3 separate regions of the Homo sapiens genome follow, and all the other regions are linked to region 3. The links come from fine-mapping of genetic effects on gene expression. A gene starts in region 3. Each other region holds a variant in brackets. All regions are shown on one strand. Distances are from middle to middle.

Region 1 (10,244 bases), 79 kb before region 3:
CATAAGGTCTCAACCAGCACTGCTATCCAAAGGCTTATGGAATGCCTGATTCACAGGCATGTCATCCCACACAACAGAGCATCTGTTATGCAAATGTACCCAGGATTCGTATTAACCAGATATGGCCAAATATGCAGACGTGGAAATGACTGTAATGAAGAAGGAAGTCTATCCTCACAGATCCTGGAAACAGGAGGCACAGCACACCATGCACGGCCACGTGAAGAAGGACTGGGATTGATCAGGAGGCAAAAGAGAGGTGAGGGCAGAGCGCAGCCCGGAGCCTCTATGGGGGTTCTCATGGAGAGTAGCAGACAAGGCAGGGTAGGTATGCTGAGTCCAGGATTGGAGAGATGAAATCGTTTTGGCAGGCCCTGGGCTATAAAGAGTGATCCCTGCCGGGCGCGGTGGCTCACGCCTGTAATCCCAGCACTTTGGGAGGCCGAGGCGGGCGGATCACGAGGTCAGGAGATCGAAACCATCCTGGCTAACACGGTGAAACCCTGTCTCTACTAAAAATACAAAAAATTAGCTGGGCGTGGTGGCGGACGCCTGTAGTCCCAGCTACTCGGGAGGCTGAGGCAGGAGAATGACGTGAACCCGGGAGGCGGAGCTTGCAGTGAGCTGAGATCGCATCACTGCACTCCAGCCTGGGCAAAAGAGGAAGACGCTGTCTGAAAAAAAAAAAAAAAAAAAGAGTGATCCCCAATTGTTTGGTACACGGCCCTGGGGTGATTTAGGGCGGGGGAATATTGGCTTGATATATGAGAATTTGATAAAGGACACGGTTGGGGATGTGGACTTGGATTGGTTGGTTTTCCTATCAAGGACGTGCTTGCAGGGAGGTTGTTTGCTATTTCTAGGAGTTAGCTAGCCCTGAGAGAGGCAGGATCAAGATCCCAAATGCCAGAACACCAAGAATACAAAAGATGAGGACGTGTAGTTAATGCAGCATCTGACCAGGGAATTCCCTTTACAGCAAAGTAAGGCCATGATCATGAGATCACTGGTGGTCTCACCTGCCACACCATCAGAAGCTGCCGGCATGCTAGCTCTTTGGAATGACTTGTTGGTGGCACAGTTGGAGTGCTGGCTTGGAGGCACCATCCTCCAGGGCACAGAATGCTAACTGGATCAGAAACCTTTATATGTTGCTACAACCTCAGTAGGAAGAACAGATGGACCTAGGAACAAAGGAGTTAAAAAGCAGGAGTGTAGACTGTGAGTTTCTTAAGAAAAAAAGTAAGAGTGGCTCATTTGCCATCACTCCCAATGACCCCCTGGGTGAACTCGTGCTTCCCATCCCTGCACCTCTGGGCTCCACAAAGTCAGAGGTCTTGGTACCCAAATGGGGCTCACTTATCACTACGACGAACAGGGGCCAGACTGTTGATTATGTGAAGATAAGATGAGGACCAGCATCTCTGCAGCCTTCAGATTCTTAAGTATGGCATTCATTTCCACCTTTCCCCTCAGAATGTGATAGATACTGTTTTTGATATACTGTTTTTTTACTGTTTTGTGTTTTTATTCTGGCTGGTCAGTGGCAGTTTCAGAGGATTGTGTCTGGGCTTTACCGCTCTCATGGCACTTAACCTATAGGCAAAGGTTCCAATGTGGAGGTTACCCCAACTACCAAGTTTGTCAATCTCTGTTCCACAGGCCATCAGATGAGTCTATGAACATCATAACCCCCCTGTAAGCAGAGTTTTTGGCCAGGACTCCATATGCTCTAAACTAACAGAGGCACCATGATAACACTTCAGGCCTCTGGACAGCAACATCAACTCAGACTCTGTGTCCAACTGTCCTTGAAATATCTGAATATTATCTTGGCTGGGCGTGGTGACACATGCCTGTAATCCCAGGACTTAGGTAGGCAGAGGTAGGTGGATCACTTGAGGTCAGGAGTTCAAGACCACCCTGGCCAACATGGTGAAACCCCATCTCTAATAAAAATACAAAAATTAGCCAGGTGTGGTGGTGCTCACCTGTAATCCCAGCTACTCCAGAGGCTGAGGTGGGAGAATCACTTGAACCCAGGAGATGGAGGTTGCAGTAAGCCAAGATCGCGCCACTGCACTCCAGCCTGGGCAACACAGTAAGACGTTGTCTAAAAAAAAAAAAAAAAAAAATCTGAGTATTACCCTCTTACCCAGGACATAGCACTATGGTAAATGTAAGGTCCTTTTGGGGAAGGACTGCAGATATCATTAAAGTGCATACTTGCCATGATATTGCAGGATTCTCCTATGGTTCCAACCACCTCTGCAGCCAATAGGTCCTGAGTCTGAAAACTGGCTGAGGTTCAGACACTGGGCAAGGGATCATGACTTTATTGGGGCAACTACCCTCAGCCTCCTGCTTATTAATTTTTGGTCTTTTTTGAATACAGTTGTCCCTTGGTATTTGTGCAGTATTGGTTACAGGACCCCTATGGATGCCAAAATCCATGGATGCTCAAGTCCCTGATAATAAAATGGCACAGTATTGGCCAGGCATGGTGGCTCATGCCTGTAATCCCAGCACTTTGGGAGGTCGAGGTGGGTGGATCTCGAGGTCAGGAGTTAGAGACCAGCCTGGCCAACATGGTGAAACCCCGTCTCTACTAAAAATACAAAAATTAGCTGGGCGTGGTGGTGGGCGCCTGTAATCCCAGTTACTTGGGAGGCTGAGGCGGGAGAATCACTGGAACCTGGGAGGCGGAGGTTGCAGTGAGCTGACATCACGCCACTACACTCTAGCCTGGGCGACAGAGTGAGACTCTGTTTCAAAAAAAGAAAAAAAAAAAGGCACGGTATTTGCACACACCTACACACATCCTCCTGAATAAATAATCCCGAGTACTTATAATACCTAATATAATGTAAATGCTATGTAAATAGTAGTTATACTGTATTTTTAAGGGAATAATGACAAGAACAAAAAATGTCTGTACATGTTCGGTGCAGATGAATTTTTGTTTTCAATCTTTTGTGGCAACAGGGTCTCACCATGTTGCCCAGGCTGATCTTGAATGCCTGGTCTCCAGCAATCCTCCTGCCTCGGCCTCCCAAAGTGCTGGGATTACAGGTGTGAGCTACTGCACTCAGCCACACAAAATTTAAAATATATATATATTTTCCACCCACAATTGGTTGAATCCACAGATGCAGAATCTATGGATACAGAGGGCCAACTGTACTTCTATACATAACAGTTCCCTTTGGGCTGCTTGTCTACTTTTCCACTGGAGACACTGTGTTCTCTTAGCCATCTCCATAACTGTCTGAACATCAAACCTCTGTAATTATCACTCTGACCTTCTCTGCTGCTACAGTTGTTCTGACCCCTGTCTTCTGACCGCTAAGTGCTGCGCCCTGCTCTCTATTGCCCCAGCCCTATCCTCTCCAGTACAATCAGCAAACCAAGTTCTGTGCCTGCCTCTCCCAGCATCAGTCCTGGCCTGCAGGGGAGGGCCAACACTGAACAACCTAGTCATGACCGTGGCAAATGGTGTGTTCCCCTGTCTCCCCATAGAATCCTATTCTCTTTTGCCTAACATACTGCCTCCATTCCAAATGCCCACCCACTTTCCCAAGGCTTTTGATCCCTTTCTCTGCCCTCTTCCCCGGCAATTCAGATATTTCAACCTCACTCAGCTTGACCTGCCACTTTGTCCAGGCTTCAATGAACCACCCTAGCAGTTATCTTGCACCCTCCCTGGGGTCCTTACCAGGGGGTTAAATCCTGTGCCTTATAGCTCCCTTCTCCAGTCCCATGAAGCTCTCAGAATCCAGGCCCACAAGTACTCCCACAGCCTCTGCTGGCACCTGTTGACTAGATCTTACAGCTCCTTTGGAATATAGCACCTTTCCTCCTGTATCCAACTAGCATATCCCCAGGCAAACTACGCAACGATTTAACCCAGTAGTAAAGTCTAGCTACCCACTGGCAATGAGGGCCACACCCCAGGAGTTAAGTCTAGCAGCCAGAGGATGAGGTGAAGGCAGCTGCCTAGGGACACCTGTTGCCTTGTAGGGGAAAGACCTCTGCCTTGTCAGGCCGGGTGCCATGGCTCAGGCCTGTAATCCCAGTGCTTTGGGAGGCCAAGGAGGGCGGATCACAAGCTCAAGAGATCAAGACCATCCTGACCAACATGGTGAAACCCTGTATTAAAAATACAAAAATTAGCTGGACGTGGTGGCACGTGCCTGTAGTCCCAGCTACTGAGGAAGACTGAGGCAGGAGAATCGCTTGAACCCAGGAGGCGGAGGTTGCAGTGAGCCGAGATCACACCACTGCACTCCAGCCAGGCGACAGAGTGAGACTCCATCTCAAAAAAAAAAAAAAAAAAAAAAAGACCTCTGCATTGTCCCCCAACACAGAGGAGGAGGGAGTACTCTCAAGTGTAGGGGATGAGCCACCTCTGCAGGTTCTGAGAGCCAGAGAAGCTCAGGGCTTCAGAATGTTCAGGGGCACCCACCTCGAGGTCCCATCCCATGTGTCGGGGTCCCAGAGATCTGAATCGCTAGAGCATTCAGCCATCTTTGGAGTGCAGCCACTCTATTAACTCATGGCTTCATCTTCAGTTCCTTTTCTTCACCGAGCAGAGGACATGAAGGATTCTTCATCAGCTGCCAAAGAAATCCTCTGGCTTTCACACTTAGTTTTCAATTGTTTGTTAATTGCCCTCAGCTTTTCATTATGTGTCTGTAGATCACCAATGCAATTGTTCATTTCCATGTATCTATCTATAATTCATATATTCTATATTCATATATATTATACATCATATAATATCCATATTGTATAGAATGTTTTTCTCCCCTGTGTACCTTTCAAATGCCTGACTTATCACATAAGCCAGTTCATTCCCCTTCACTGGTACATTCTCCCACGTCAGCATCAGTGAAATGTTTAACAATAGGGCCACCAACATGTGCTGGGGACTTTCCATGCTCACTTAACTCCTGGGGCGTGGCCTCATTGCCAGTTGGTGGTGGAGTGATCCAGCCCCCAAACCCCGTCTTACCAACTACTTTCTTGGACCACTATTGAAAACCCATAGGCCCGGCACGGTGGGTCACACCTGTAATCCCAGCACTATGAGAGGCCAAGGCGGGTGGATCACGAGGTCAGGAGTTCGGGACCAGCCTGGCCAGCATGGTGAAACCCCATCTCTACTAAAAATACAAAAATTAGCTGGGCATGGTGGCATGCACCTGTAATCCCAGCTACTCGGGAGGCTGAGGCAGGAGAATTGCTTGAACCCTGGAGGTGGAGGTTGTGGTGAGCCGAGATTGAACTCCAGCCTGGGCAATAGAGTGAAACTCCATCCTAAAAAAAAAAAAAGAGCCAGGCGCAGTGGTTCACACCTGTAATCCCAGCACTTTGGGAGGCTGAGGCAGATGGATCACCTGAGGTCAGAGTTCGAGATCAGCCTGGCCAACGTGGTGAAACCCCGTCTCTACTAAAAATACAAAAATTAGCCAGGCATGGTGGTGCATGCTTGTAATTCCAGCTACTCAGGAGGCTGAGGCAGGAGAATCGCTTGAACCTGGGAGGCAGAGGTTGCAGTAAGCGGAGATCGCACCACCGCACTCCAGTCTGGGCAACAAAAGTGAAACTCCGTCTCAACAAAAAAAAGGAAAAAAACAAACAAACAAAAAACAAAATGGATGCTGAGATGGAGTTAGGAATTCAAAACTTTCACTGGGGAGTAGGACTTGTGAAAAGAAAGAGGCGGAAGCCAGAGTGGGCAGAGAGAGCCCTCTGATTCGGAGGCAGACTAGCTAAGGTCTCTGACTGCCCAGTGGGAAGCTCCGGAGCAGATGGTTCATTGGGAGTCCAGCATTGGGAGGAAATGAC[T/C]AGGCCATTGTAACACTGCCTTAGTCATCACTGGGGAGGCCACCCTGCAAAGGATATGATCTCAACTGGAAAGCAGAGGTTGACCCTAAAGGAGTCTATAGCTGGAGCTATCAGCTCATCACGTGCCAGGCAGCTGGGCAGTGAGTCCTTTCTCAAAGAGGTATCTAAGGTGCATCTCTGCCACATTGACAATGACAAGACAATATGAGAACAGTTTCTGTGCAAGCCTGTGCACAGTTGAACCATGTTTCTCTGGTTAGTAAAGAGGTGTTGGCTGGAAGTTTACCAGGAAGATAAGGTGAGAGGGGACTTTGCAGGAAAAGTGGACCAAATATTCAAAGACCAAGGCAATGCAAAGCATGGGTATGTTCTAGAAAAATCCAAAGAATCCAGTGGAGCAGAAACATAAATGTTAGCAAATGGGAGAATATGGACATGAATGATAAAGGAGACGAGTAACACAGGACCTTTTCTGCCTGGCCACAGAAGTTCAGATTCTGGGCCGGGCACGGTGGCTCATGCCTGTAATCCCAGCACTTTGGGAGGCTGAGGCAGGTGGATCACCTGAGGTCAGCAGTTCGAGACCAGCCTGACCAATATGGAGAAACCCCATCTCTACTAAAAAAATACAAAAATTAGCCAGGTGTGGTGGTGCACGCCTATAATCCCAGGTACTCAGGAGGCTGAGGCAGGAGAATCGCTGGAACCTGGGAGGCAGAGGTTGCGGTGAGCCAAGATTGCACCATTGCACTCCAGCCTGGGCAACAAGAGCAAGATTCTGTCTCAAAAAAAAAGAAGTTCAGATTCCACCTGCAGCTGACACAGGGAACTTGAAGAATGTTCATCAGGGAAATGACATGATGAGATGTGAATATTAACAAGACCTCTCTATGGAAGAGAAAAGCCAGGAGATGAAGTGAGGAAGAGTCAAGATGATGCTGCAATGGTCCAGGAGAGAACCAAGTTGGGGTGGTGGAATGGAGAGGAAAGTCCAAATAACCCCATAGCAGGTAGAACTGGGTGAACACAGTGAGCAATTGACCATGAGGGGTTGATATGGTTTGGCTGTGTCCCCACCCAAATCTCATCTTCTTTTTATTTTTTTTTTTGAGATGGAGTCTTGCTCCATCACCCAGGCTGGAGTGAGTGGCACAATCTTGGCTCACTGCAACATCTGCCTCCCAGGTTCAAATGATTCTCATGCCTCAGCCTCCTGAGTAGCTGGGATTACAGGCACGCACCACCATGCCTAGCTAATTTTTGTATTTTTAGTAGAGATAGCATTGGCCAGGCCGGTCTCGAACTCCTGACCTCAGGTGATCCACCTGCCTCAGCCTCCCAAAGTGCTGGGATTACAGGCTGTGAGCCACTGCGCTGGCCCCAAATCTCATCTTGAATTGTAGCTTCCACAATTCTTGAATGTTGTGGGAGGGACCCGGTAGGAGGTAATTGAATCATGGGGACAGGTCTTTCCCATGCTGTTCTTGTGATAGTGAATAAGTCTCATGAAATCCGATGGTTTTATAAGGGGGAGTTTCCCTGCACAAGCTCTCTCTTTGCCTGCTGCCATCCATGTAAGATGTGACTTGCTCCTCCTTGCCTTCCGCCATGATTGTGAGGCCTCCCCAGCCATGTGGAACTGTGAGTCCATTAAACCTCTTTTCTGTATAAATTACCCAGTCTCAGGTATGTCTTTATTAGCAGCATGAAAACAAACTAATACAGGAGTGAAGGAAGGGAGGAGCCCAGGATGATGCCCTAGTTTCTGACTTGAGCATCTGGCTGGCTGTTCACCTGGTCCCAGAAGAGACCTACACACATGCTTTCTCCCCTCCAATTTCCCCTTCCCCTTGACCTGTGATCTATTCCTCCACCCCAGGTCCCTTTCAACATTAGACATCCCTCACCCCTATTCACCTGATGCACACGGCAAGGGAGGGCACAGAAATAGGCTCCCAATAGAGGCTGCCAGGCATGGCCCTGGAGACAGCTCACTTGTTACAGTCCCTGCTGCTATGGTTTGAATGTTAATCCCCTCCTAAACTCATGTTGAAACTTAATCTCCAAATGACAGTGTTGAGAGGTGGGGCCTTTAAGAAGTGACTGGGTCATGAGGCTCTGCCCTTATGACTGGATTAATCCATTTGTGGATGAATGGATTCATGGGTTATCATGGGAGTGGGGCTGGTGGCCTTATAAGAAGAGGAAGAGACACCTGAGCTAGCACACTCAGCCCCTCACCATGTGATGCCCTGTGCCACCTCAGGACTCTGCAAAGAGTCCCCACCAACAAGAAGGCTCTCGCCAGATCCGGCTCCTTGATCTTGGACTTCTCAGTCTTCATAACTGTAAGAAATAAATTCCTTTTTAAAATAAATTACCCAGTTTCAAGTATTCTGTTATACGTAACAGAAATTAGACGAGATAACAGTCCAGGCCATCTCTCACCCCTGAGCTTGAGCTCGCAACCCCATAGAGATGGGTAGTCCAACAGTTAAGGCCCTATCCAAGTTGCCCAGACCTGCCAGTCCAGCGCCATCCACTCATCGTGCACCTTGCTTCAGCCTCACTGAACCATATTCTCCTCTTGTGATTTCCCACACCAGGCCCTCCTCTTGCAATGTCTGGACCTTCACAGTTCAATTCAAACGCCCCCTCCTCTATGAGGTCTGCTGTGACTCCCCAGCTGGGAATATCTTCCTCCTTGATCTCCACTTGCTTTGCATTTTGTTCTTATTAATCCTGCTCTGTATTGTGAGGCTTTTACGTGCTCATGGGTTGTCTTTACTAGATGTCAAGAACTCAAAGCCAGTGTCTGTTCCAGGCAGGTCCCTGCACGGAGTGGGGGTGAGGGAGTGCACAGAGAAGGAGCAAGAAGGTAGAGCCAAGACCCAGTGAGTGGGCCGGGGACTGGGGCATGGTGTAGGAAGACAGGTCTTGCCTCTCAGGACAGGAGGAGCTCAGAGAAAACGTTGCCTCTACTACTGCTGCTCCAAATGCAGACCTTATGGTTTCTAGGACCTTCATATGGACCAAACTGGGCTGTTCCTTGGGGTGAGGCTCTCCAGAGTTCCAGAAGACTCTGCTGGCCTCCAGGCCAGCCAATTCTCCCTCTCATTATTAACTGCTGCAACCATGTGCTAAGAGGGGATCTGATGAAATCCTCCCAGCTGTTTCCTGACGACCCCTGACGGTGCCCAACCTGGACTGAGCCCTTTTCTGGGACAAGGATCCCCAAGGATGTGCCTGGGTGTCACCCCTAGCAGCCCACCAAGGTTTGGTTCACTCCCTCTGGGTGTGAGCCAGGCGCCAGATGTCCCCACACTAGAGGACACCAGGTGGTTGGCATCATGGCAGGTCACTTCTAAAATGGGATCAGGAATTTTTCAGAAGAAAAGGTTGGCAGAAAAAAAAAAACCAGATTGTGACTGAAACACAGTCACCAGCTGATGTAGCATATTTGGAGCTATGTTCTTCTTGCAGATGGGGAAGGATACAGAAACTCATGAAGGGTAGGCATGGGAAACCTTTCCCCAGAATTAGCAGAGAATAGCCCAGGTGAGGTCCCCGCTAACCAATGATTTGGGCAGGTTTGTGCTTCACTTGCTCATCTATAAAAGAGGGATCAAAGGGAGTGTTGTGAAGAATTAAATGAGTTAGTAGATATGTAAAGTGCTTAGCACAGTGCCTTGGCACATAGGAGTGCTATCATGATTTGTATTAGTTTTTCTAGGATAATTAGAATTGCAGCAACATGTGTGTATGTTGACAAATCTAATTAAAGGCCCAGAAAGGTTTTAAGCACTTTCACTGTCGGATGGAAAGGGTAAGATAGTTACATTAACTCCAGCTTGGTGCAAACCATGAACAATTCAGCAGTAATTGAGAGGGTCAGCAGGAAAGGTCATTGAGGACCCTGGATGTTTGCGTTCCTTGCAATCTGCTCAAAATGATAGGTTTTTATATTTAGCGCAAAAATTATATGCTTTGTAATTTTAATGAAAAGTCATTTGTAATTTAAATGGAAACTATATTTGATTAGGTCATGAGTTGTGAGAAATAAATTAAATAAGAAAGAAAAAGGATTTTAAAAATCATGTCTGGTATCAACCCAACTACATAACCTTAAATCCCCTATATCTATATCTGTAAGATACAGTATAGTTTCTGACTTCTCTAGAGCGAAAACTCAGATATATCTAGAGCCATCTGACATCTCTCCCACAGAAGGATCTATTTAACATGAAGGCTGCTGAGACTTGTTGTGATGGTTAATTTTTTTTTTTTTTTTTTTTTTTTTGAGATGGAGTCTCGCTCTGTCTCCCAGGCCAGAGTGCAGTGGCACAATCTTGGCTCACTGCAACCTCTGCCTCCCCAGTTCAAGCTATTCTCCT
Region 2 (10,244 bases), 120 kb before region 3:
GGCTAAGAGGCGTCAGAATGTGGATGCTCCTGTGAATCAGACTGGACTTGTAGTTCCAGGCCGCAGAGTCCTGGCATGCGGGCACCATGGTCATAATGATGATCTTCATTGCCATGGCACACACCATTCCCATGTATCAGCTTTATGCCTGGGCAGAGCAGACGGGTGTGACTGAAGGCACAAGGGCAAAATGCCATTATTGAGGCACCTCCTGCTGCCCCGGGAAGCACTTACCTGAGTGGTGAGTCCACCTGTCTACTCATTGGACCGCCGTTATGCTCCAGGCAGGATAGAAGAGGCAGTGGTTCCCTGCCTGTGACGAGTCCCTGGGCTCTTCTCCTCAGGGCAAGTGGTCCTGCCCTGCTGGAATTGTGTCTAACCAAGGGTAGAGGTATCAGCAGCAGGTACCTGTGGAAGAGACAGAGAAAGCGGTTGTCTCCTTAATATCATCCTTGCTAAGTTCTTTCATCCTCCAAGGACAAAACAGATGGTGAGGAAGAACAGGGAGGACCTTGAGGAACTGGTCTTACTTGGAATGCTGGGGCAGCCGGTCACCGGGTTTGGGATTCTTCCTGTGGAGCGTGGAGCGGCTGTGATCCACCAAGGCAACTAGCGGTGCACGGAGCTGGGCAGGGTGGCCAAGGCCTTGGCCGTTGATGTAGGTGTTCGAGGCACGGATGGCCTGTTGATCTATGTGCAGCTGCTGCGGCTGTGTGTGTTGATGCGTCCCACCCACCAAAGGCCCCAAGCTTCCTCTCCACCTTCTGCTGGCACCGTCTGCAGCCTCTGACAGCATAGATACTCTTCCTGGGGTGGGGGCTTGGGGGGCAGGTGCCCCAGGATGCAGTGATAGAGTTCCAGAGGCTCAGGGCTGGGGTGGGCTGCAGGATGGGGCTGTTCAGGCTGAGCTGTCCTTCTGTCCTTAGCCTGCACCTTTCTTTTTGGCCCCATCATAGACCTTTAAGCGTGCCCCCAGATGGACAGGCTGAAGTCCCCTTGACCCACAGTTTGGCTTTCTATCCCTGCAGCCATGTCCTCATTTTCTGGGGCTGGTCAGCTCCTGGTATGGCTTCAGGACCTGTCCACAAGTCTGCCACCTCACTGTGTGGAGGTGGCTTCAGACCTCTCTGGAAAGTCAAAAATGGAGACGGAGACACTCTTCTGACAGGTTTGGGTGGTCCAAAGGATGAGTTGCTGTGGAGAGGTGGAGGGAGTAAGGGCGGGCCAGTGGGGAGCGGGCACCTGGGCGAGTCTTCCCAGTTTTCACTGCTGTGATTGCTATGAGGATGTGTATGAAGCAGGGTTTGTGACAGGCCAAATCTGCACAGGGCCCACCATCCACAAAGTGCTTGTATGCCTGCATTCTCTTGGTCCTTTTTGAAAACATTGCTAACAGGTCAAAACCCAAAAGCGACCACAGCCATGTCTGACTTCAGGGGTGCAGATGCTGGGTTGGTAGAAGACCCTTCTGTCCCTCTCTGCAGAGTTGAGTAACCTGCCTGCACATGAGGTGGTTGGAGACTTCTTATCTTTTCTTTAGTTTTTAACATAAACTTTATTATTGAAGCATAACATAAATACAGAGAAGAGCACAAATCACGAGTTCAGTGGCTTTTCCAAAATCACATGTGTAACTAGCATCTAATCAAGAAATTGAACTCTACTAGAACACCAGAAGCCCCCTAATGCTTCCACTCAGTCACTCCCCCACCATGCTAACCACTCACCTGACTTCTAATACCTTAGCTTCCTTTCACCAGTTGGGGACTTTATAGGAATAGAATCATCTGATATTACTGAAGGACTTTTAAGAACAGAAATATTGAATACCCAATATTGAGAACTTTGCTTTGGGATGATATCATCATCCTCATACACATAATAAAGCCTGCTGAGCGAACAAATGTCTTTTGCATGTGTTTTTGTTTTGCTTTGTTTTGTTTTGTTTTCCAGATATTAGAGGTGACAATCCGTGGAAAGGAGCCGAGTCTCCCATCTGGGTCAGTGCAGAAACGGAGCAAAGGGAGCTTCTGCAGAATGTGTTTGCAAGTAAGGCACCGCTTGAGCAGATTCAGACACTCCAAGCCAGACGGGAGGGGGAACATTGGGCAGAGCATTGGACTTCCCCTCAGAAGGTAGGACAGGGGCTGAGTCAAATTCATATACTTTCCACTAACAATGGAATTATAAACTAGATAAGCACATTTCACTGGAAAAGATACAAAGAACTAGTCATCCCCATGGACATATGGTCGTCCCTATTTGACATTAACTGGCTGGTTATTCTTGCATGATTTATACCTTCATGAGTCAGATTATGTGATTGAATCAAACGAAGCATGCGTAAGTCTGGAAAAAGAGAGGAAGGGGAGGAGGCTCCAGCCATAGATATCAGAAGAGACCAGAGAATAAATAAAACCCCTTCTGGTATGAGATTGCCATTCTACTCTCTATTGTGAAAAGTTGCTACTGGATGCAGAGACGCTTACAGGGGGCATCGAGAGGGTTTCCAGAACCAGTCTTGGGCAGCTGACAGGCCAAATCTTAAAAGAAAAGTGAACTCCTTTGCCCTCCAATAGCAGCAAAAGCTGAAACCAGAAGGGCACTCAGCTGAGCCTCCCGGGGCAGCAGGGTGGGAAGAAGGAGGACCCAACTCATCAAGAGGACCCTCCCTTTCAACAGTCATCACAGGTAGTATAAGGCAGCTCTGGACAGGATTTCACAGTAGAATCACCACAGGAGCTTACATACTTCACTTTGTTTAGTGTGGTGAAATATATGTGACATAAAACTGACCACTTTTACCACTATTAGGTATACAGTTCATTGGCATTAAATACATCACCATTGCTGTGCAATCATCATCATCGTCCGTCTTCAGAACTCTTCCATCTTCCCAGACTGAAACTCTGTACATTAGGCCACAATTCACTCCCTTCTACTCAGCCCCCTGGCAACCACCAATCTATTTTCTTCCTCTATGAATTTGACTACTCTGGGTACCCTATATAAATGGAATCATACAGTATTTTTCCTTTAGTGTCTGCAGGGGAAGTTTTAAAAGCATGAATGCCCAAGCCCAACCCCAAGCTAATTAAATCAGAATTTCTGGGGGGAAAGCCCAAGTAATTGCTGTTATTTTTAAAAGCTCACCGGTGATTCTAATGGGCACCCATGGGTCAGAAGATCTAAATCAGATTTGCACTCAAGAACCCCTCCCCCATGACAAACACACCTCAGCACCTGCTGGCTGATTCCCCAGATTCCTTTAGCTGTGGGTAAAGCTAAGGGTTCTCCTTCTTCAACTGGAGATGAGAGGCTTAAAATGACGTATTCGGGTATCACAGCGACTGAAACTCATGTGCTAAAGATTAATCTACCAGTCAAGAGGGGTAAGTGATTATTATGAGACACTGTCTCCTTCTGGAAACTGGGAGGGCTCAGAGTAGCAGATGGTAAGTGACTGCTGATTTGGGAGATGGGGAGAGACAGACACACTGGGACCCATGGCCGCTTTTTAGGGAGCAGTGATAAAGGTTAGTCCTATTTACCTTTAGTTACCTTGTGGACACAATAGGATTTGGGAGGAATTTACGACCAGCACATCTGTGGATTTGCCTTGTTCATTGGAATGCGGCCACTCGGACATATGGTTCCCATCAACTGTATTTTTGCATGATTCTTGAATTTCGCCCCCCCCCCAACTTTTTTTCATTTAACTGCACTGACTTCATTACAAAGGAACTTCACTTACATGGGTTCTAATTGAGGCATGACCAGTGCCTTACTCAAGCAAGAGCTCCTTCTGTTCCTTCTTTCTGCAGAATTAGAAATATACAGAGAATGATCAGATAGATAGATGATAGGCAGATAGATAGGTAGGTAGATAAACAGATAAAGAGACAGGCAAATGTATACAAAGTGACAAAATGATAAGAAAGATCCACACCAAATCATGATATTGGTTCTCCCAGTGGAGGAAGGGAGGTATGGGAATGGGATCAGAAGAATTTGAATGTTTTATTTACTTAGTTTTTTAAAACCCTGGAAACAAGCAGGACAAAATGTTAACACTTGTTCTCTCTGAGTTGGCATTTGTTGTGTTATATTCACTCTTTTTACTCGTCTTTGTGCTTTTTGGTATCTTTAACAGTTGTCAGTATTATATATATAGGTATATAAATAATCATACACATAAAGACACATGTATAAAGAAATACTTTGGCCAGGCACTGTGGCTCATGCCTGTAATCTCAGCACTTTGGAAGGCTGAGGCAGACAGATTGTTTTAGCCCAGGAGTTTGAGACCAGCCTGAGCAACATGGTGAAGCCCCATCTGTACAAAATACACAAAAATTTGTAAGGTGTGATGGCACACGCCTGTGGTCCCAGCTACTCCAGACGCTGAGGTGGGAGGATCGCTTGAGTGCAGGAGGTCGAGGCTGCAGTAAGCCATGATTGGGCCACTGCATTCCAGCCTGGGTGACAAAGTAAGATCCTGTCTCAAAAAAAAAAAAAAAAAAAAGTAAAAAGAAAAGAAATACTTTGATGACTGAGAAGAGCTCTTATAAAGAGTTTCATATTAATAATTTTACCATAAAAATAAAATTAATAAAGTTTCAGAACATTTGAAAAATACAAAAAAGCGTAGACAGAAATTGCCACATTTTGGTGTCTTCATATCCTACTTACTTCTCCATGCATTAAATAATTGTGTCATTGATTTCAAGTTTTCACATAGTCCCTAATTACAAAGGTAATACTTATTCATTGCAAAATGCAGAAAAAGATGGATAAGGAAAGATACATTACCCCATTGCCTTATTACCTGGAGTGCCCCACTATGGTTCATCATGGCAAAAAACAAAATCAGATTCTGGCTAGGAAGACAATTACTGAATGTTATGATTTGAATGTGTCCCCTCCAAAATTCAGCTTTTGCCAGTGTGATAGTATTAAGAGATGGGGCCTTTAAGAGGTGACTAGTCCGTGATACTCCTCATGAATGGGATTAAGAATCCTTATAAAGGTGCTTGACAGAAAAACCTGGTTCTCTCTTGCACTTCTGCTTTTCCACCATGTGGGGACATGAGGTTTCTTCCCTTTTGTCCTTCCACCTTCTGCCTGCATCACATGGTAGTGCCTTGATCTTGGACTTCCCAGCCC[G/A]AAGAACTCTAAGAAATAAATTTCTGTTCTTTATAAATTACCCAGTCTCAGGCATTCTGTTATAGCAGCACAAAACAGACCAAAACACTGAAAATATTAAAAATAACATATTCCATCAACAGAGGTTATCAGGGTCTTGGCTTTTATTGAGCTCCTCCTTTGTTTTTTATGTGATGGAGTGACTCACACATGCAGTCGGATATGGTATGGCTGGCCTCTAATGCTAATTTAATCTTGGATTAAATGTTACTTTCTTAGACATCGTCTCTGATGGTTCAATCTGAAAGAGCTACTCGCTATTTCAATAGCCTTAATTTAAGTATTTTTTGGCAGGGAGGAGGGAGTTTGCCATTATTATTTATCATTCTCTATCATTTTTTCTTTTTTAATTGTGCATTTATTTGTTTCTTCCCTGTCTTTTTCATTATTGTATCCTCGGGGCCTAGAAAAATGTCTGGAATTTGGAAGTTTTATTATTGAATAAATAAATAAATCAAATATCCTTTAGTGATCATGCCTACTTAGGATTATGGAAGTGTCTTTCTTTAACTACCACTGGACCCAAGCCTAAGAAAACAACCTGGTGAAGCACCTGGATTTCGGCCACACCCCTCTGCCTCCTCTGGATTTCGGCCACACCTCTCTACCTCCTCTGGATTTCAGCCACACCTCTCTACCTCCTCTGGATTTTGGCCACACCTCTCTACCTCCTCTGGATTTCAGCCACACCTCTCTACGTCCTCTGGATTTCAGCCACACCTCTCTACCTCCTCTGGATTTCATCCACGCCTCTCTACCTCCTCTGGATTTCAGTCACGCCTCTCTACCTCCTCTGGATTTCAGCCACACCTCTCTACCTCCTCTGGATTTCATCCACGCCTCTCTACCTCCTCTGGATTTCAGCCACACCCCTCTGTCTCCTCTGGATTTTGGCCACACCTATCTACCTCCTCTGGATTTCATCCACGCCTCTCTACCTCCTCTGGATTTCAGCCACACCCCTCTGTCTCCTCTGGATTTCAGCCACACCTCTCTACCTCCTCTGGATTTCATCCACGCCTCTCTACCTCCTCTGGATTTCAGCCACACCCCTCTGTCTCCTCTGGATTTCAGCCACACCTATCTACCTCCTCTGGATTTCAGCCACACCTCTCTACCTCCTCTGTAGCAGCAATTCTATGTCTCTGTGTTAATGAAAAGTCCTTGCCGCAGCCAGTGGAGAAGAGAGAGAGAAGGGCAGAGAGAGTATTTAAGGAAATAGCTGAAAACATTCCAAATTTGATGAAAGACATGAACATAAATATCTAAGAAGTTCAACAAGTAGGATGAACTTAGAGATCTACATTAAGGTACATCATCATTAAACCATCAAAAGACAAAGACAAAGAGCGACTCTTGAAAGCAGCAAGAGGGAAGCCACTTGTCATATACAAGGGATCCTCAATAAGATTACTAGCAGATTTCTCATCAGAAAGTTTGGAGACCGGAAGGCAGGGGGCTGATATATTCAAAGTGCTAAAAGAAAAAGGAAAGCCTGTCAACCAAGAATGCTACAGCCCCCAATTTTTTTGCCTTTCATGTTTATGAGGCATCTATAGTTCCCTTGGCACGAATAGCCACTTTCTGTCCTTTGTCCATTTTTCTCCTGAGGTGTTTATTTATTTTTTATTTTTTATTATTTTTTAAATGGAGTCTTGCTCTGTCACCTAGGCTGTAGTGCAGTGGCATGATCTCAGCTCACTGCAACTTCTGCCTCCTGGGTTCAAGCAATTCTCCTGCCTCAGCCTCCCAAGTAGCTGAGATAATAGGCACGCACCACCATGCCTGGCTAATTTTTGTATTTTTAGTAGAGACAAGATTTGACCATGTTGGCCATGCTAGTCTCGAATACCTGACCTAGCGGTCTGCCCTCCTTGGCCTCCCAAAGTGCTGGTGTTACAGGTGTGAGCCACGGCACCTGGCCATATTTTTAACTTTTTTCTTTGTAAGTGCTTTCTATGTTGTAAGGAGACTAACACTTTCTTACATATGGGGCACAATTTTATTTTGTTTTTCTTTTGAAAATTTTAAACTGTAATTTTAATCAGTACATGTTTAATTTTTATTAATAAATAACTTACAATTTTTAATATAATTAAATATGTTACTGTTTTTCTTTATGACTCTTGCTTTGGTATCATTCAAAGAAATACTTTAAAAACTTCAGGATCATAGAAATTTAGCAAGGACTGCTAGTAATAACAATAGGAGGGCCGGGCGCAGTGGCTCACGCCTGTAATCCCAACACTTTGGGAGGCCGAGGTGGGGGGATCAAGAGGTCAGGAGGTCGAGACCATCCTGGCTAACACGGTGAAACCCCGTCTCTACTAAAAATACAAAAATTAGCTGGGCACGGTGGCGGGCGTCTGTAGTCCCAGCTACTCAGGAGGCTGAGGCAGGAGAATGGTGTGAACCCAAGAAGCGGAGCTTGCAGTGAGCCAAGATCGTGCCACTGCACTCCAGCCTGGGTGACAGAGCCAGACTCCATCTCAAAAAAAAAAAAAAAAAGCTAAATTATTCATAATCACCATCATTATTCACTATGTATCAGACACTTTATATATAATCCCATTTAATTCTCATAACAAATCTATGAAGTAATTATTATTCCCATTCTACACATCAGGAAGCTGAGACTCAAGAAGACCAAGTAAATTCCCCACAGTCATGATTACGGGGTTGGAAGTGAATGTCAGTAGTTTTGCTGTGCATAAACTTCAGGCTTTGTTGGATGAGCAGACCCGGGTCCACGTCCTGGCTCTGCTGTGCCAGCTGGCAGATGGACCACTTTGTGCATGTCTCTGCACCGCTCTGGACCTTCATTTCACTTGTAAAATTTCACCTAATAACACCTCCCTCATAGAGTTGTTAAATGAGAGAAAAGTATGTACTGTGCCAAGCACTGAGAGAAAAGTCAGCCTGAGAGTCAGCCCTACTCCTCTTTGCTGGAGCTCCTTCACTCTCTTTGTTTCCTCTCTGCAGGGGTAGGGCGCTGTGGCAGAGGGGCTGGTGAAAGAAACGCTGAATCAGCATCTGTGAAACTGACATCTGCAGTGAGGTGCACAGATTGAAATGCTGGGCCTAGCCGATTTAAGTAAGGAGCAGAGCAAGGTGGCTGCAGCGGTCCCACCCTGGAGGACCCTCTTAAAGGCGTCCCACCCTGGGGTGTGGCTCAGGTTTCTGCAACAAGACCTATTCCTTTCTGTGTGTGGGAGGCAGGGGTGGGGCTCGTCAGCATGATCTCTCCGTGGTTCAGAGGCAGCCACTCCTGCCTGTGAGGATGCCGGTCATGTGTGTGTGAGGTTGCTGCTCATCTACCAGCTCTCGCCCCGTTGGCCCCAACACACACACTAAAGCCATGGGCACCCTCGAGGGACACCTGCTGCCAGCAATGTTCTTCCTTCTCTACTCACTCTACTATATGGTGCTGGTGTCTCTGGCCCTGCTACAGGAACAGAGGCTCCTCAAACTCCCTCTGCCCTCCAGGGAGAAGTGAGGACACAGGTGGTGGTAGCTGGTGCCACTAGAAGGTGTGGTGAAGGTGGTCATCACCCTGGCTGGCATCTTACCCAAGTTATTCTACCCGTCTGGAGTAAATCGGCTGATGGTGGTAGACTGGGAGGATCCGCGGTGGCCATTCGTGTTCAAGGACAGCTGGCAGCACATCACCATGTACGAGTTCTTTATGCTCACTGGCGTGGTGGACATTGTAAGCCAGTCGTGTCAGGAATGGTAGAATATGAAGCTAGAGCAAGCAGTCAAGGCCTTGGGCTCCTATGTGCTGGCACTACTGATGGCAGCCCACATTGAGAACAAGGGCACCCTGGAGATCCGTGTGCGTGAGCTCTTCAGCGTGCCCCCCTTCCTGGTCTCCCTGGTGCTCACCATCAAGGTCTGGGTCCCTGACCAGCCCCAGCTCTGGGTGCTCAAGACCTGGGTGGGGCTGGGGCTCAGCAACTGGATGCTGCAGCTGTGTGTGCTGATGTTTGCGCCTCCCTCCGGACAGCCCTGCAGGTGGAGAACCCCATGGACCTTGCCTTCCTCACTCGCTTCTTCTCCTGGCACCTGGGCTTGGGGGCTGCCGTGCTGGCTGCTGTCTATGGCCTCTGCAGCCTCTGGCACCGTCACTGCTCCTCCTGGACAGCGTTACCAGGGGCCAGGTACTAGCCGTGCCTCACCAATTCCAGTGGTGAAGAGCTTGAGAAGCTCAGGGCAGAGGCTGTGCTGCTGGATGGAGGCGTCTAGGTACAGAAACTGTCTTTGTTCTATGCCTTTTGTAATGAGAGTTTCAAGGGTGCCCACAGCACGCATAGCATGGAAATGCCTTAGAATTCACAGGCTAGCTTCTATCTCGGGAGCCATCTTTCTCGTTCCCAAATAAACCTGCCAGCCCCTGGGGTAACTTCTCATCCATCATTCTCTTCTCTCCAGGTCTGTCTCTTTTCTCTCTCATTATTCTGGCCAAGCACATACATGAAATGAGAACAGGAGTGCTGCTTTTTTCTGGCAGTTTTCAGGATCCAAGAGGAGGAAATGAATTGAGGAAGTAGACAGAGAGGAAAGAGCGCCCGTAGACACCATATTTCTTAGATGGGGCAGGACTACGGTATGCACGGGTATGCCTGCAAATGAAGTCTCTCAATGTGTGAAAGACAGGGGGTCCGTTTTTCCATAATGGTGAAGTCTTCTGTTTTCTCAATTTCTCTGTTTTTTATTCACTCTCAGTATGGCAGTATGAGGAATTTTCATGTTTGTTTTTTGTTTGTTTTCGAGATGGAGTCTCACTCTGTCACCCAGGCTGGAGTGCAGTGACTTGGTCTCGGCTCACTGCAACCTCCGTCTCCTAGGTTCAAGCAATTCTCCTGCCTCAGCCTCCTGAGTAGCTGGGACTACAGGCACCCACCACCATGCCCAGCTAATTTTTGCATTTTTAGTAGAGACGGGGTTTCAACACGTTGGCCAGGCTGGTCTCAAACTCCTGACCTCAGGCGATCCTCCCACCTCAGCCTGCCAAAGTGCTGGGATTACAGGCATGAGCC
Region 3 (8,936 bases):
GCCACCACGCCCAGCTAATTTTGTATTTTTAGTAGAGATGGGGTTTCTCCATGTTGGTCAGGCTAGTCTTGAGCTTCCTACCTCAGGTGATCCACCCACCTGGCCTCCCAAAGTGCTGGGATTACAGGCTTGAGCCACTGCACCCAGCCTACAAATCACTGTTTAATTTATTTTATTTATGCCAGCTCTTCTATACCAGGCTGCCTGCTCTCTGCTTTCCCCAACACAGGCCCACACAGCCCTTCAAGCTAAAAAACAGAAATGTTCCAAGCTGCCGCCTACCATCACATCCTTACCTCTGAGCCATAGAATCCCTTCAGCAGCCGCCGAGGCCCTGGCGTTCCAGGAGGCCCAAGGAGGTGGGCAGTGACAGTGCCTTGTTCTGAGCCACCAAGCCCAGCCAGCAGCACTTCATAGTGCAGGTGACAGTGGGTATCCAAGGAAAGCCAGGCGTGCCCTGCTGCTTGGCTCTTCACAGGGGGTAGCACCAGGGCTCCTGCTAGGGGCACGGGCAGCGCTGGGTCCAGACAGAGGAGAGATGACAGGTGAGAAGGTGGCCTAGGGCAAGCCCTCAAACCCAGCATTCCCAGCTCCCCAGCACACATTCCACGAGCTGGAAGACACTGTCCATAGGTCCAGGGCCTGGAGAGCAGCAAGTTTTAGACCCTTGAACCTCAGCAACAGGAAGAGTCCGCCAGCAGGGCCACCCTATATGTCCCCACCTTCAGATGGCAACCGGAGCTTAGGCACAAAGAAAGACACACCAGGCTCCGGCTGTCTGCCACCATCCCTCAAATGTTCTAGGAAACCAAAGGGCAGACAGACCCCTAAGGACACTCACTGTCATGGCGGGCGCTATGCCCACAGTAGGGCAGGGCAGCCACGTGCCCCCGAAGCTCTCCGTCTGGGAAGTCCTTGGTGCCCACGTTCAGGAAGAGCTCATTCTGCAGCAGCATATGAGCCCCTCGGGCACCCAGCCCAGGGCAGATACCCACGGCCTGGGGGCAGGGGAGGATAGGCCTTCTCAGCTCTCACACGAGTCCAAGGTTCTGAAGTCTTGGACCATTTTGTGCCCCCACTCCACCCACACACACTTCCACACACCAGAAACACAGGATAAGGACCTGGCAGGCCCAGTTTCAAGGCCCTCCCCTGCTGCTTCCTAGCTATGTAACAACCTTCAAGAGTAACTTAACTTCTCCAAGTCTTCACTTCCTCATCTCTCAAATGGATACTGTGAAAGCCAAAAACTATGTAAGGCCACCAATGCAGCACCTAGCACATGGAAAGGCCCTATAAGTAGCAACCATTGCCATTACATTTACTAATATGTGGCCTGTGGCACTGTTCTCCAGGTCCAATGCTCCCATTTGACTGTGAGCTTGCTAAGCACAGGGGCCACATATGATTTGCTTTGTACTCTAGTCCCTAGTCTGGGGCTCACTAAAAATGTCAAATCATGCCGGGCACGGTGGCTCTCGCCTGTAATCCCAGCACTTTGGGAGGCCGAAGTGGGCGGACCATGAGGTCAAGAGATCAAGACCATCCTGGCCAACACGGTGAAACCCCGTCTCTACTAAAAATACAGAAATTAGCTGGGTGTGGTGGTGCACACCTGTGGTCCCAGCTACTTGGGAGGCTGAGGCAGGAGAATCGCTTGAACCCAGGAGGCAGAGGTTGCAGTAAGCCAAGATCACACCACTGCACTCCAGCCTGGTGACAGAGCCAGACTCCATCTCAAAAAAAAAAAAAAAAAAAAGTCAAATGAATAAATGAATGAGTGGGAGAACCCATGAGTGAGTGGATGATAATGAACATCCCTGCTCATCCAACCTGGCTTCCCACAGCCCATGCATTGGGCCCTGGGGTCCAGCTCCACCTGGAGCCCTCACCGTGTGTCCTCCTGGCTGGAGTCCAGCCATGTGGCACAGGACAGTGCGCTGATCCCTCCGCTGAGGCTTGGTCTCCAGTGTCATGGCCACCACCTCACTGCTTGTCCCTACCACTTGCACCTGATGGGCAGGGATGGAGGAGGGCAAAGTGGAGAGGCAGTAAAGGCCTGGGGCCTGCTGCCCACGCCACCCCTCCCCCACCTTCTGCAGCCCCTGGCTCTTACCTGATAGATCAGGGAGCCATTTCCTAGCAGCGTGAGGCTGGCTGAGCCGGCAGCACCCGTCTGGACTGGGATCAGGGCATCAGCCCCACAAAGGACACTTTGCAGGACTACGGAGGGGCAAGACAGGTGAGGCTAGGTTTACCCCATGGCCGCTTACACCCCCAGTCCACAGGATCTCTCCCACACCCACCCTGGCACTTGTCTGTGTCTCTCAGTTGTGCATGCCCGGCGCACCAGGCCCCCCCCCCGCCTCACCGTCGCAGCTCTTCCTGGCAGCAATGTGTCCACTGATGCGCAGCCCTGGCCTGCCTGCCCACTCCAGGGCCATCTGCAGCTCCCCCAGCACCAGCCAGTCCATCTCCTGGACTGTCAGGTTGGGCAGCACCTCAGCAAAGCCTGGTTCCTGGGGACAGAGCAGGGTGTGATGGGCAATAGCAAGAGGCCAAGACAGGTGGCAGCGAGAGCCAGATCCCCACTCACCTGGGCTGAGACATTGGCCTGAAGTTCTCGCAGTAGCTGCCCCTGGTGTAGAATCTGGAGCCTCAAGGGAACCTGGGTTAGTCCTGCAAGGCCGCACATGTGGGCCTTTCTGAGACAGGTGCTCTCCCTAACCTTCTCACGTGTTTTGCCCCCATCCCACTTACCCCCACTCCTGGGTTCCAGCAGCCCTCGGAAGAGCAGCAAAAAATGCAAGGAGTCCTCTGTGTCACTGAGAGTGAGCAGGGTGATGCCCCCTACGCCCTGCTGTGGGGGGCCTTCTAGAGTCAGGATGGCACTGAAGGTCTCTGGGGAAGGGACGATGATGAGAGCCCGTCAGAAACCCTCCCCCCCTTTCCTGGGTGATAGAGAAGACTCAGAACTTCACGCCCGGGGCTCTTTGCTCCCTACCTGCAGCCAGGGCCCGGTGCCGGATGAGAGGCCCCCAGACCTCCCCTGAAGGGTGAGTGAGTGTCACAAGTGCCACATGCAGCTGTTCTGCCCTAAGGAGCCGCAGAGACAACCGAGGCACTGCCCGCCACACCCCACAGACCTGGAGCAGAGAGACAAGAAGGCCCTACGCTCAGACACTGTGCAGGCTAGGCCAATTAGGATGCCCAGGCAGGGCTTATGAAAAAGGAACATGGAAAGGAACCTCCAGGGTGCCCTAGGAAGCTTAAGAAAGAACGCTGGAGCCAGATGCTTGGGTTCCAATCCTGGCTGCACCACTTACTAGCTGTGTGACCTTGAACAAATCACATTATCCTACTGAGCCTCAGTTCCCCCTTCTGTAAAATGGGCATCATAATGTCAGTGCCTTCCTCCCACTGGGCTGTGGTGAGGACCACGGGAGGCAATGCAGAGCATGCTCTCGGCACAGTGCCCAGACTGGGCAAGTGCTCATAAATGGCATCATCTCACCAGGCCATCTTGGGTGGGGGCTGCAGGGTGCTCAAACAGGACACTGCCATTGGAGTCTGAGAAGCGGATCCTGGTAGGGCGGTCCAGCCTGGGAATGAGAGGTCGGGTGAGGCCGGACTGAGCCAAAAGCAGCCCCTCCCAGCTCTCCCAGTTTCCCTCCCGGGCCCCGGCAGCTGACCCCTCCTTGCTCCTTCCCCTTTCTCACCGCCTGTAGGAGATAGAGAAGCGGAGGCTAGAGCGCAGCAGCGAGACTCGGGCTCGTGCCACCGCCTGCGACCTCGGCCCTGTCAGCAGCGCCACGAAGTCTGGGACGGGAGGAAGATGGCCTGAGCACTGTCAAACGCCGCTTTGGTGGCCCAGCCTCAACCACAACCCCGCTGTTCGCCAGCCCCCTACCCGTGTGGCCGTCACCACGGGCCCGCTCCTCAGCGCCTGGCTCCCCGCGGTCGCTATAACTGCGATGCTCCGGGTCCCGCGGATACTCGAAGGACAGGCCGCTCGGCTGCCGCTCCGAACTGCTGCGCTCTGCGGGCGGGGGGGTAAGAACACGGGCTTCAGCTGGCCATGGGAAAGGCCAGTCCGACGCCCCATCCAAGTGGCCCGGGACCTAGTATCGTGGCCCTGCCTCCCTCCCCGCAGGGCGGAGCAAGACTTACCCTGGGGGCAGGTCTGGCAGCAGTGTCCCGGCAGCTGGCGCGGCTGCCCACAGGCCGGGGTTGGGCACTCTGGTTTGATGTTCTTGCAGCTGACCCTGCCAGGGCCCCTGGTACGGCGACCCCACTGAGGCTGCTCCCGGAAAAGGCGGGAAACCCAAGTGAGTGCAAGATGCCAACTGATGAGACCCCCCCAGGCAAGGATGTCCCGCAGAGTCAGCCAGCTCTGCCACTTACAAGCTGCGTGACCCTAGACAAGCTACTTCATCTCTCTGGGCCTCAAGGTCCCTGTCTGGAAAATGGGGATAATAATACTCTCTATCTAGCAAGGCTGCCATGAGAGTTAGATGAGCAGGGAACGAAACGGAGTTGGCACAGAGCCTCACACAGAGTGGGCGATCAGTAACAGCACCTAAGAATTGGAGGGGCTGATTCCCCTTCCTCCACCAGAAAAATATCCCCAACATCTGCCGACTGGGCTCCTTCTCAGCAGCTCCGAGTCCACTCCGACGCCCGCGCGACCCGGCGCTCCCCACCCGCCAGGGCCCGGGCCGGCCGCGGGGTGCACTCACCGCCTCGCAGGCGCACAGCACGCAGCGCATCACCCCGAATGGCTCCCCTAGGTCCGGGTGCCACGTCTCGTCCAAGGCATAGACCTTCCCGCCGAAGGTGCAGCCTGCGGGGACGGGCTTGGCTGGAGGCCGCTGCCCAGCTCGCGCCGTGTGCCGCCCCGGGGGCTGCCCGCGGGTCCCGGGTCCCAGGCACCGCGCCCTTCTGCCCCCGCCCACCCTCCGGGCCGCCCGCCGCGCCGAGCCACCTGCGCCCCGCGCCCCCTCCGGGCTGGCGCTGACTCGCCCCGAGCCCGACTCCCCGCCCGCGCCTCCCCCGGGCGCCCACCTACCTGCCGCTCCCCGAACGGGCAGCGGCTCCTTCTCAGAACGGATGGGCAGCACGGGGGGCTCTGGGCCGGCGCCGCGGGCCGGCCGGGAGCCGAGCAGCAGCAGCCCGAGGAGCAGCAGCGGGGCCGGCGGGGCCGGGAGGCTCGGCATGACGCGAACGGGACAGCTGGGGAGGAGGGAGGGAGGAGGGCGCGGGAGCGGGCGGAGGGAGGGAGGCGGGAGTGCGGAGGGCGGAGGGCCGGGCCGGGGGCGGTGCGGCGGGAGGGGGCCGGGGCCGGGGCCGGGGCCGGGGCAGTGCCGCGAGGGGCTCGTCGGGCGGCCGCAGAGTCGGCGCCGGGCCGGGCGGGGCGGGAGGAGCGGCCGGGAGGAGCGCGGGCGGGCGGGCGCTGACCCGGGCCGTACGCGGCTCTACTGCCCCGGGCGCCGGCTCCGGCCCGTTTTATGCCCCGCGCCCGACGCCCCGGCCGGGGGCCTCCTCCTCAGCAAACGGGGCGGCGGCGGCAGCTCGGCGAGGGGCCGGGCTGAGCCCGGGGGGTCCGACCCAGCAGCAGCGGCCCGGATCGCGGGTGGGGGAGGGGAGGGAGGGGCTGGGACCGGGCAGGGGAGGAGGGAGGGGCGGGAGGGGAAGGGGGAGCGGGGGAGGGGGAGGGGAGGGACCAGGGGGCGCGAAGAGGGGGAGGAGAGGCGGGCCCGGAGCCCCCCGCTGCTGGCGGCCACAGGGCGGCTGGACCAGGAGGTCGGTGTCCAGCCCAGGAAGGGAGCCTCAGGCTAGGGAGGGGCAGAGGCTAGGCCTGAGGCCTGGACCGCTCTGTGAGCGAGGACCCGGTTCCGCCCGAAGGATGAAGACTTGTCTTTAAAGATGACAACGTACAGGAAAGGTCCATCAGCCGATCTCCCCCTGCCTGGGCCCACAGCGCCCCCCAAACCCTCACCACCCTCTCTCACTGCCTAGCCTGCCTCCCTACCTTCTCTCTGAGGTCGCTCCTCATTCTTGTGTTACCCAGGACAGGGACCTAGCCAGAAACCGGCAGCATTCCCCCTTCTGTGGAGTGACAGTATCTCCCTCTCATTGTAACTTATCCTCAGGCGCATTCGACAGTCCCCTCTTGCTTTCTCACCCCCTTCCTTCACCCAAGGGACCCTCTGCCTCTCCAGCCCACTCCCAGCCTCCTTTCTCTTGGTTCCCTGGTCATGCCTGCCTCCCTGTCTCCTGTCTCTCCCTCCCACACACACCCACTATCCTCCCAGCTATCCCAGCACCCTCCTTCCTAATCTTGGGAGACATCTCGTCTGGCTGGACGGGAAAATTCCAGGATCTAGGCCACACTTCTCAGCAGACATGCCCATCCTTGGGGAGGAGGAACAGGAGAGAGCCTGAGGAAGTTCTGGGGGACAGGGGGATGATGGGATCAAGGTCAGGCCAGGAAGCCCCTGAGGACAGAGACTGTGGGGAGACTGGGACTGGGAAGAAAGCAAAGGAGCTAGAGCCAGGGCCAAAGGAAAAGGGGGGCCAGCAGGGAGGTATTTGCGGGGGAGGTCCAGCAGCTGTCTTTCCTAAGACAGGGACACATGGGCCTGGTTATTCCTCTTGTCACATGTGGAACGGTAGGAGATGGAAGACGGAGACAGAACAAGCAAAGGAGGGCCCTGGGCACAGAGGTCTGTGTGTGTAGCCATCTAAGCCACTGGACCCCAGCAGACGAGCACCTAAGCTCAGGCTTAACCCAGTGCACGTGTGCGCACATACATGTGCCCCGCACCTGACAGTCCACTCAACCCGTCCAAACCCTTTCCCCATAACACCAACCCATAACAGGAGATTTCTCTCATGTGGGCAATATCCGTGTTCCCACTTCGAAAGGGGGAATGACAAGATAGGACTCCCTAGGGGATTACAGAAAGAAAAGCAGGAAAGCAAGCATCCTGTTGGATTTCAGCAGCAGGTATGATGTCCAGGGAAAAGAAATTTGGATAGCCAGGGAGTGAAAACCCCACCAATCTTAAACAAGACCTCTGTGCTTCTTCCCCAGCAACACAAATGTCCTGCCAGATTCCTCCTGGAAAAAAACTTCTGCTCCTGTCCCCCTCCAGGTCCCAGGTTGCCCATGTCCAGGAAAAGATGGATCCCCCTATCCAAATCTTCTCCGTGGTGTGTGTGGGTGGAGGAGTGGACCCTGGTCCAGGCAGGGGCTCCAGGGAAGAGAAGGCGTCACTTCCGGGGGCCTTCACCAGTGTCTGGTGGCTCCCTTCTCTGATTGGGCAGAAGTGGCCCAGGCAGGCGTATGACCTGCTGCTGTGGAGGGGCTGTGCCCCACCGCCACATGTCTTCCTACCCATCTGCTCCCCAGAGGGCTGCCTGCTGTGCACTTGGGTCCTGGAGCCCTTCTCCACCCGGTGAGTGGCCAGCAGGGTGTGGGGTTATGTGAGGGTAGAAAGGACAGCAAAGAGAAATGGGCTCCCAGCTGGGGGAGGGGCAGGCAAACTGGAACCTACAGGCACTGACCTTTGTCGAGAAGAGTGTAGCCTTCCCAGAATGGGAGGAGCAGGGCAGAGCAGGGGTAGGGGGTGGGGTGCTGGTTTCTGAGGGACTGATCACTTACTTGGTGGAATACAGCACAGCCCTGGCTGGCCCTAAGGAAAGGGGACATGAGCCCAGGGAGAAAATAAGAGAGGGAGCTGCACTTAGGGCTTAGCAAACACAGTAGTAAGATGGACACAGCCCCAATCCCCATTCTTAGCTGGTCATTCCTCGTTAGCTTAAGGTTCTGAATCTGGTGCTGGGGAAGCTGGGCCAGGCAAGCCAGGGCGCAAGGAGAGGGTAATGGGAGGAGGGCCCACTCATGTTGACAGACCTACAGGAAATCCCAATATTGAATCAGGTGCAAGCCTCTTTGCACAACTTGTGAAAGGAGGAGGAAGCCATGTGGGGGGTCCTGTGAAGGAACCGGAAGGGGTTCTGCCAAGGGGGCAGGGAGGCAGGTGTGAGCTATGAGACAGATATGTTAGTGGGCGCCTAAGACAAGGTAAGCCCCTAAGGTGGGCATCACCCAGCAGGTGCCCGTTCCTGGGCAGCTGGTCTCAGGAAGGAAGTCCCAGAACTGTTAGCCCATCTCTTGGCCTCAGATAATGGAGTATTTCAGGACTTGGAGTCCAGAGAAAAGCTCCAGTGGCTTTATGTGTGGGGGTAGATAGGGAAAGAATAGAGGTTAATTTCTCCCATACCGCCTTTTAATCCTGACCTCTAGTGGTCCCAGTTACAGCTTTGTGCAGTTCCCCTCCCCAGCCCCACTCCCCACCGCAGAAGTTACCCCTCAACATATTGCGCCCGTTTGCCAGTTCCTCACCCAGGCCCTGCATCCCATTTTCCACTCTCTTCTCCAGGCTGAAGCCACAATACTTTCCTTCTCTATCCCCATCCCAGATTTTCTCTGACCTAACAACCAAGGTTGCTCAGAATTTAAGGCTAATTAAGATATGTGTGTATACATATCATGTCCTGCTGCTCTCAGCAGGGGTAGGTGGCACCAAATCCATGTCCGATTCACTGAGGAGTCCTGACAAAAAGGAGACACCATATGCTTTCTTGCTTTCTTTCTTTCTTTCTTTCTTTCTTTTTTTTTTTTGAGACGGAGTTTCACTCTTATTGCCCAGGCTGGAGTGCAATGGTGCGATCTCGGCTCACCACAACCTCCGCCTCCCAGGTACAAGCGATTCTCCTGTCTCAGCCTCCCAAGTAGCTTGGATTACAGGCATGAACCACCACACCCTGCTAGTTTTTTTGTATTTCGTAGAGCCGGGGTTTCACCATGTTAGTGAGGCTGGTGGCGAACTCCTGACCTCAGGTGATCCACCCGCCTTGGACTCCCAAAG

The links. PIP is the estimated chance that this variant, and not a neighbour inherited with it, causes the effect.
Region 1: its variant is fine-mapped to the expression of CHRD in fibroblasts (GTEx, PIP above 0.99).
Region 2: its variant is fine-mapped to the expression of CHRD in cerebellum (GTEx, PIP above 0.99). The same link has a PIP of 0.9 or more in cerebellar hemisphere.

The regions. Positions count from the first base shown.
Region 1 is chr3:184,455,187-184,465,430 of GRCh38, reverse strand. No RefSeq gene overlaps it. Among named protein-coding and RNA genes, the nearest start is that of LINC01839, 16 kb to the left of the region's middle. The variant T/C (reference allele first, on the strand shown) is at 5,851.
Region 2 is chr3:184,498,690-184,508,933 of GRCh38, reverse strand. LINC01839 (long intergenic non-protein coding RNA 1839) reads right to left here. Exons shown (of 8, transcript XR_924788.3): 3 at 5,047-5,174; 4 at 3,755-4,498; 5 at 531-1,499; 6 at 235-408. It also overlaps the pseudogene TEDDM3P. Among named protein-coding and RNA genes, the nearest start is that of LINC01839, 28 kb to the right of the region's middle. The variant G/A (reference allele first, on the strand shown) is at 5,167.
Region 3 is chr3:184,376,599-184,385,534 of GRCh38, reverse strand. It overlaps CHRD (chordin), which reads right to left and starts at 5,481. Exons shown (of 23, transcript NM_003741.4): 1 at 5,069-5,481; 2 at 4,740-4,843; 3 at 4,171-4,300; 4 at 3,911-4,039; 5 at 3,720-3,819; 6 at 3,515-3,602; 7 at 3,005-3,146; 8 at 2,761-2,901; 9 at 2,597-2,679; 10 at 2,372-2,519; 11 at 2,117-2,223; 12 at 1,893-2,012; 13 at 842-998; 14 at 297-517. The coding sequence starts at 5,216. THPO (thrombopoietin) reads left to right here and starts at 7,328. Exons shown (of 6, transcript NM_000460.4): 1 at 7,328-7,460.